2 linked regions of the Homo sapiens genome follow. The protein of the gene in region 2 interacts with the protein of the main gene of each other region in a pairwise test. Each region holds a gene or a part of one and is shown on either strand. Other genes may lie near its edges.

Region 1 (3,500 bases), on a different chromosome or scaffold from region 2:
TGCTGTATATCTAAGACATACAGCACCTGTGCTGTATGTATATCACACCTCAATGGAAACTTGTAAAAGAATTTAATTACTTTTTTTTTTAAAGCTTCTAAGTGAACTTTACCTAAAGGTATATCAGTAACAGCGGCAATACCCTTCATTTCCTCTTCAAAAGGGCCAGGAAAGTTGCCAAGTAGGCCAGGCTGGAAAACAAATATATTAATAAAAGCATTTAACATAATAACAATAAAAAATATATAATATAATATAAACAAATATAATAAAAGCATGCTTTGAAATCTAGTTCTTGGACATATAATTTTTTCTAGATACTGCTATCATAATAAGTGATAGGAATTATTTTTTAAAGCATTTTTACATCATGTAGTTATAAAAAGATTCTATGTAATACTGAATATTGGGCCCCTATACAGAGACCAGATTCTCAGATTGTTTTTCCTGCCTTATTTTTCCATCATTCTCCAGAGAAGGCAGGAACGAGAGTAATTCCACTTGGATGACCTAACCTGACCCACACCACAAAAACATCATAACAAGCACTCCTTATCTCTCTGCACGAATTCACCCTCTAGCCACTGGCATATACCGTTCTTACCATTTCCTTCCCACACTCACAGAGATAAACCTGCACTATTCTATCCATAGCCCTGTGTCATGGTTAATGGCTGATCTTCAGCTAAGATGAAGTAACTGCATTCTTTTAGCAAACCAGAGACATTGAGCAAATTCAGTGGTGGACATCATATATTTATTCTCAATGGCAACTACTAACATCCAGATCACAACTTAAGTTCACGGCCTTTTGCTGAGATAATCTGCTTAAAATTCACGAATCTCACTTTTTTAACCAACTTGGTAATTACATGTAATGTCACCTAAACATATTTTTTTTCTCCCTAGGAACTCAAAGCATTCCCCAAGTGGAATGTTCCAGCCATTTAACAAACAAATGTGACGTAATGGGTATTTATTAAACACTTATTACATCCAAGCACTATGCTTTATACACAGTATGTCATTTAACCCTTACAACCACCATATGAAATATATATTAGTAATTATTATTCTCCCTGATGAGAAAACTGAGGTTTCATAGGTTAAGAAACTTTCCCTAGGACACAAGGCTAGTATGTGACTGATCCAGCCTTAAAACCCAGTATTGTCCGATTCCAAGGCGTGGCACAAAAACTCTCTGCAATGTTGCCCTCCCTGATAACATTCAGAGTAGAGGGGAGATTAAGGCATACGGGGAACGTGGGGGCCTCATCCTCTTTTGCTCCTGCCAGCATTTTTTTGTTTTGAGGAAGTCCGGTAAGTATGAACATAAAGGATAGCCTGAAACAAAAGCTCCGAGAGCATGCACGTGAGGGATAATGGGTTTGGTGCTTGGCAGGTACAAGTGTCATAGGGAGGATGTGGCCACAGCACTCAGCCGCTAGGGCAATGATTCTCGACCACGGGAGATTTGGTAACATCTAAGGACATTTTTGGTTGTCACAACTGAGGGGGTGTTACCAGCATCCAGTGGGTAAGGGCCAGGGACACTGCTAAACATCCTGCAATGCACATGACAGCCCCACAAAAAAGAGACACCCACCCCAGGCCGGGCATCCTGAGCTGCTAAACATCCTGCAATGCACATGACAGCCCCACAAAAAAGAGACACCCACCCCAGGCCGGGCATCCTGGAATGTAGACAAGCCCACGACAAAGAAATATCCAACCCAGGCCGGGCATGGCGGTTCACACCTACGATCCCAACACTTTGGGAGAACACTTTGGGAGGTTGAGGCGGGAAGATCGCCTGAGCCCAGGAGTTGGGAGACCAGCCTGGGTGACACAGCAAGCCTCCGTCTCTACTAAAAATTCAGAAAAGTAGCTGGGTGTGGCGGCACGTGACTGTAGTCCCAGCTACTCAGGAGGCTGAGGCAGAAGGATCCCTTGAGCCTGGGAGATCAAGGCAGCTGTGAGCTATGATCATGCCAGTGCACTCCAGCCTGGGCTACAGAGTGAGATGAGGTCTCAAAAAAAAAAAAAAAAAAAAAGCTGCCCAACCCCAAATGTCATTAATGCCCAAAATCTGCCATCAAGAGCAATGAGGATCCCTTTAACAGTTCTAGGGGCCAGGCCCTAGGTGTTTCATTGGTTCTGCGTCAACAAAAACGGGGCTGAGAAATGGAGTCTTCCTGCATGATGAGGATGAAAATGAAATGGTTTGGTGATTGCACAGAAACACTCAGCCCAAATGAGTTTCAGGGTCAGAGCTACTGAGGAACTCTACAGAATAAGGGGCCAGGCTGAGTATGTCATTTGCTCATATCTACAAAAAAAAAATCTCTGGATGTCCCTGAGACACTTAAGAAAAAAAACCAAGTCTTCAATAGTGAACTCACTACATAAAGGGAAGGAAATACCACACTCCCAGATGAAATATGGTTATTTGCCCAATGTCGTAATGTAGTCCCATCCCCTTTTACGAAACCATAATTTGCTATGCTGTAACCCTAATATTACCAATTCCCCAAATTTAAGTCCCTCTGAAGTTCTGACAGTGAGCTAGATTCATGCAGATTTGCCCAAGTCCCTGCGAAGAGGTTGCTGAATTATGCCTTTAAATAAATAACAGCGCATTTTCTATGTGCTTAACATTTATTGTGAGAAATAATATCTCTTACCAATTTTTCATCCACCACCTGCATAATTTTTCCACTTGGCACGAATGTATTTATCATATTCTTCAGAGAATTCACTATAACCTTTAGCTGAAAAATAAATAAAATGCTTACTAAAAGACATAATGAAATGCTGTCAAGATTACCTTTTGGCTTACCCATATGTAGCTAAAAGAGAGTGCTATTTGACAATTTATATATATATTTTTTAAAACAGCATCTCGCTCTGTCACCCAGGCTGGAGTGCAGTAGCACCATCTCGGCTCACTGCAATCTCTGCCTCCCAGGTTCAAGCGATTCTCCTGCCTCAGCCTCCCAAGTAGCTGAGATTACAAGTGTGCATCACCATTCCCAGCTAATTTTTGTATTTTTTTTTTTAAGACGGAGTTTTGCTCTTGTCGCCCAGGCCGGAGTGCAATGGCACGATCTCTGCTCACCGCAACCTCTGCCTCCCGGGTTCAAGCGATTCTCTTGCCTCAGCCTCCCAAGTAGCTGGGACTACAGGCATGCACCACCATGCCTGGCTAATTTTTGTATTTTTAGTAGAGACGGGGTTTCACCATCTTGGCCAGGCTGGTCTCGAACTCCTGACCTCGTGATCCACCCGCCTCGGCCTCCCAAAGTGCTGGGATTACAGGCATGAGCCACCGCGCCTGGCCTAATTTTTGTATTTTTAATAGAGACAGGGTTTCACCATGTTGGCCAGGCTGGTCTTGAACTTCTGATCTCAGGTGATCCGCCTGCCTCAGCCTCCCAAAGTACTGGGATTGATTACAGGCATGAGCCACCGTGCCTGGCCTCGATTAATACATTAATACA
Region 2 (3,500 bases):
TCCTTCAGTGTCTACATAGACCTGCTGGGGAGGGGCATATATGCCAATATAAGGCCCAGATCCTTCTGTGCCAACGGGGAAAGGGTCAATATACCAAAACCTCATTAGGAAACTGTAAGAAAAGAACCTGCAAGACACTATTTTTATTTATTTATTTTTTTTGAGACGGAGTTTCGCTCTGTTGCCAGGCTGGACTGCAGTGGTGCGATCTCGGCTCACTGCAACCTTCGCCTCCTGGGTTCAAACGATTCTCCTGCCTCGGCTTCCTGTGTAGCTGGGACTACAGGCACGCGCCACCACACCCAGCTAATTTTTGTATTTTTGTAGAGATGGGGTTTCACCGTGTTGGCCAGGATGGTCTTGATTTCTTAACCTCATGATCTGCCTTCCTCGGCCTCCCAAAGTGCTGGGATTACAGGCCTGAGCCACCACGCCCAGCCAGTCATAGCTCTTTTAACCTGTCTTTTTCCCTTCTATTTCTCTTCTCCCTCTTCTATATCTGCTTACCTTCTGTTTCCCTTCACTTTCCTCTCATGATGTCTGACCACTGCTCTCTTTCTTTTATACAGTGTGTTGTGCTGCAATGGGGCTGGAATTGGCAAAGGTGCTGCGGAACTGCACCGGGAGGAGGGTTTCTGTAGCCTACGTGTCTTGAGCAAAATCGTCTCTTAGATAGGCTCGAAGCAATATATAACCCACCTCCCTGTAACCCTTTGGCTACATAATGGTTGTAAAAATCTCATGAACAGTGGCCAGCCATGTGAATCTTCATCTTCTTCCAAGATACTTCTGGGTCTGGATCCCAAAGGCCCTGACAACTCAAAGTACACAAATGCCCACCATCTGCTGCACCCACTCTACATCAGAGCAGCTGCATGCCCCCACTGGCATCAGCCCTCTTGGTCGCGTGCATTGCGGGCTGCAGAGTGGCTGCAGGATGCTGCTGAGCGATGGCCTCACCTTGAGGTCTCTGTGGACGATGCCCATTCTGTGGAGATAGTACACGGCGTCCAAGACTTGGCGGATCAGAGTGCTGGCATCCTTCTCTGTATAAAACCCCTTCTCCACTATCCGGTCAAACAGCTCTCCACCGGACACCCTGGCAAAAAAGAACATATTAGAAGTTTGAAAGGATCTGTTGAATTGTGAAGGGAAAGCTTCCAATGTGAAAAAAATCCCAAACTTTATTGCAAAAATGAATCCATCTTCAGATTGAGATGTTGCCCCCCTATTCCTCAGAGGCTATAGCCAGGAAATGTTTCCATGTCACAGCAGAGCAAATGTCTGGAACCAAGTAAAGGAAATTTAAAAAAACACGATCCACGGACCAGCCACACCTGGGTTCTGTCCAGGCCTCTGCCTCTGTTCTGCTGTGATGATGTAAAGTTTAAAAAAACCCTTCCTGAATACCAGCGTCCTCGGATACAGGAAGATGACCCTGAATAAAATGTCTCCTTTGCATGAGACAGTATCCTTAAATGACCGAGAGTGTTGTGGGCAAAACGCTGGCCTGCCAACGGGATGTGTGGGTTTTTGACCAAGTTCTGCTCCTAATATACTGGGATACGAACACCGCCTGAATCCCTGGACCTTGATGTTTTTATGTGTAAAATTAGGGGATGAATCTAGTCACCCATTTCAACAGTGGGTGGGAGCATGCCTTCGGAATGATCAGAACCTCAAAGCCACTTGTGATTTATGAAAAAGCAGGCAAGAAATCAAGACTATATTTCATTACTTTGCTTTGGTTTTAGTGATGCTGTATCCTTTTTATTAGCTTTGCATTTCAGATTGCATTTAACATTTTTAAACATTTTTCAAAATGGGACTAGGTTGGCAAGGGTCAAGAAGCCCTGTGGGGGCAACCTCTCTGGCACCTTTCAGCTCTGATATTTTATGCTGCCCTGAGTTCAACAAAATAATGGAAGTGTACAAGCCAGAATACAAACAACTCAACTAGTGTTCTCCAAATCATCTCAAATCATTAAGCCATCTTGGAAATAAATTTCAAGGGATTTATTAACACTACTGAAAAAAAAGAAAGAAACATTTTTCAAAAACAAGATGAGACAGATTTGAAATGCTAAAATCAAAAAGCAACTTAAATAAACAACCCTTAAAGCTTTCACAGATATAACAAAAGACAAGCCCTACGGTAACACACACTCATACACAAACACACAAAGATAAGATTCATTTTCCAAAAGGCACGACAATTTATGCGCAATAACTGATCCACTGAAACCTTCTTTTAAAAAAACTAATCAAACAACCACTGCAGCCGTAAAAGGCCTATGTGCTTGTCTCTTCCATTACCTATAGTCATAGCAGGCAATATTGTGCTTGGATAATGTTTCATTTCCAAGGCAAACTGACAATCTAGGTAAGAAAGAAAAGGTGCTCAGGAGAAATAAAAAAGCAATTCCAAGAGTGAAAAGAAACGGAAACGACTGGGAGAAACTACATTTTGATGACCGTGTTGTCTCAATGATCCATGCTTAGGTAAGCCAAGAGCCCAAGATACTCCTCCTGACACCAACTTCTCTCCTCTCATCATTTTTCAAGAACCTTCCCCCAACAAGTTTCAACATCTGAAACTTTGCAGAGCTCGAGAATGTACCAGAAGAGGTAGACTGCTGTTAGGGACAAGGTGAGTCTGGGTGCCCTAGAGACATTCACTTCTTATTTTTTCTGAGACAGGGTCTCATTCTGCAGCCCAAGCTGGAATGCAGTGGCATGATCACAGCTCTCTGCAGCCTTGACCTACAGGGCTTAAGCGATCCTCCCACCCTACATCAGCTTCCTGAGTAGCTGGGACCACAGGTACGTGCCACCACACCCGGCTAATTTTTGTATTTTTAGTAGAGACGGAGTTTCACCATGTTGCCCAGTCTGGTCTCAAACTCCTGGGCTGAAGAGATCCTCCCGCCTTAGCCTCCCAAAGTGCTGGGATTACAGGCGTGAGCCACTGCATCCGGCCTGCATTCACTTAATTATTTATTCAACTACTCACTCAACATTTCCTGGGTGCCCATTACATGCCAGTGAGCATGCCCAGTGGGATGCAATCGAGGCAGCTTTCACTCTGAAGGCGGAACGTCTGTTACGATTATGCCCTTCCACATAGGCCCCCTTCCAGTAGCAGCCTCCCTAACTGCTGTCTCCAGGGCTTGCTTCTCACTGTTCTGCCTGCTACTGCCTCCTCTCCTCTGCAACTGCTGGATGACCTCTGGCAAGAACGCTTACCCCTTCCACTGCTCCCACCACCTCCTGCCCTTAGGACCCCATGATCCAAACCTGGCCAACCTGCGTCCCTCAAAACCTACCTGTCCTGCTTCCCATTCTGTCAAGGTCCTCTTTTTTCCCATTATGTGATATATAAGGTATGGACGAATTCTACTGAATGAAAAAATCTGCATAAAATATTTTCTGTCTTACAGCAGTGCCATAGGGCAGCAATGCAGTGAAAACTGAAGCATCAAAGGATAGCATGTACTGTT

The links. Proteins that work in one complex are often made in the same cells at the same time.
Region 1: the proteins of CAMK1D (region 2) and ASAH1 interact in a two-hybrid assay, tested with the Homo sapiens proteins (one large-scale study listed by BioGRID and IntAct).

Annotation. Positions count from the first base shown.
Region 1 is NC_000008.11:18,067,108-18,070,607, forward strand, and holds part of ASAH1 (acid ceramidase isoform a preproprotein), read right to left. Parts: intron 2,772-3,500; coding exon 2,685-2,771; intron 192-2,684; coding exon 113-191; intron 1-112. UniProt on the Homo sapiens protein: Lysosomal ceramidase that hydrolyzes sphingolipid ceramides into sphingosine and free fatty acids at acidic pH.
Region 2 is NC_000010.11:12,758,547-12,762,046, reverse strand, and holds part of CAMK1D (calcium/calmodulin-dependent protein kinase type 1D), read right to left. Parts: intron 1,100-3,500; coding exon 961-1,099; intron 1-960. UniProt on the Homo sapiens protein: Calcium/calmodulin-dependent protein kinase that operates in the calcium-triggered CaMKK-CaMK1 signaling cascade and, upon calcium influx, activates CREB-dependent gene transcription, regulates calcium-mediated granulocyte function and respiratory burst and promotes basal dendritic growth of hippocampal neurons.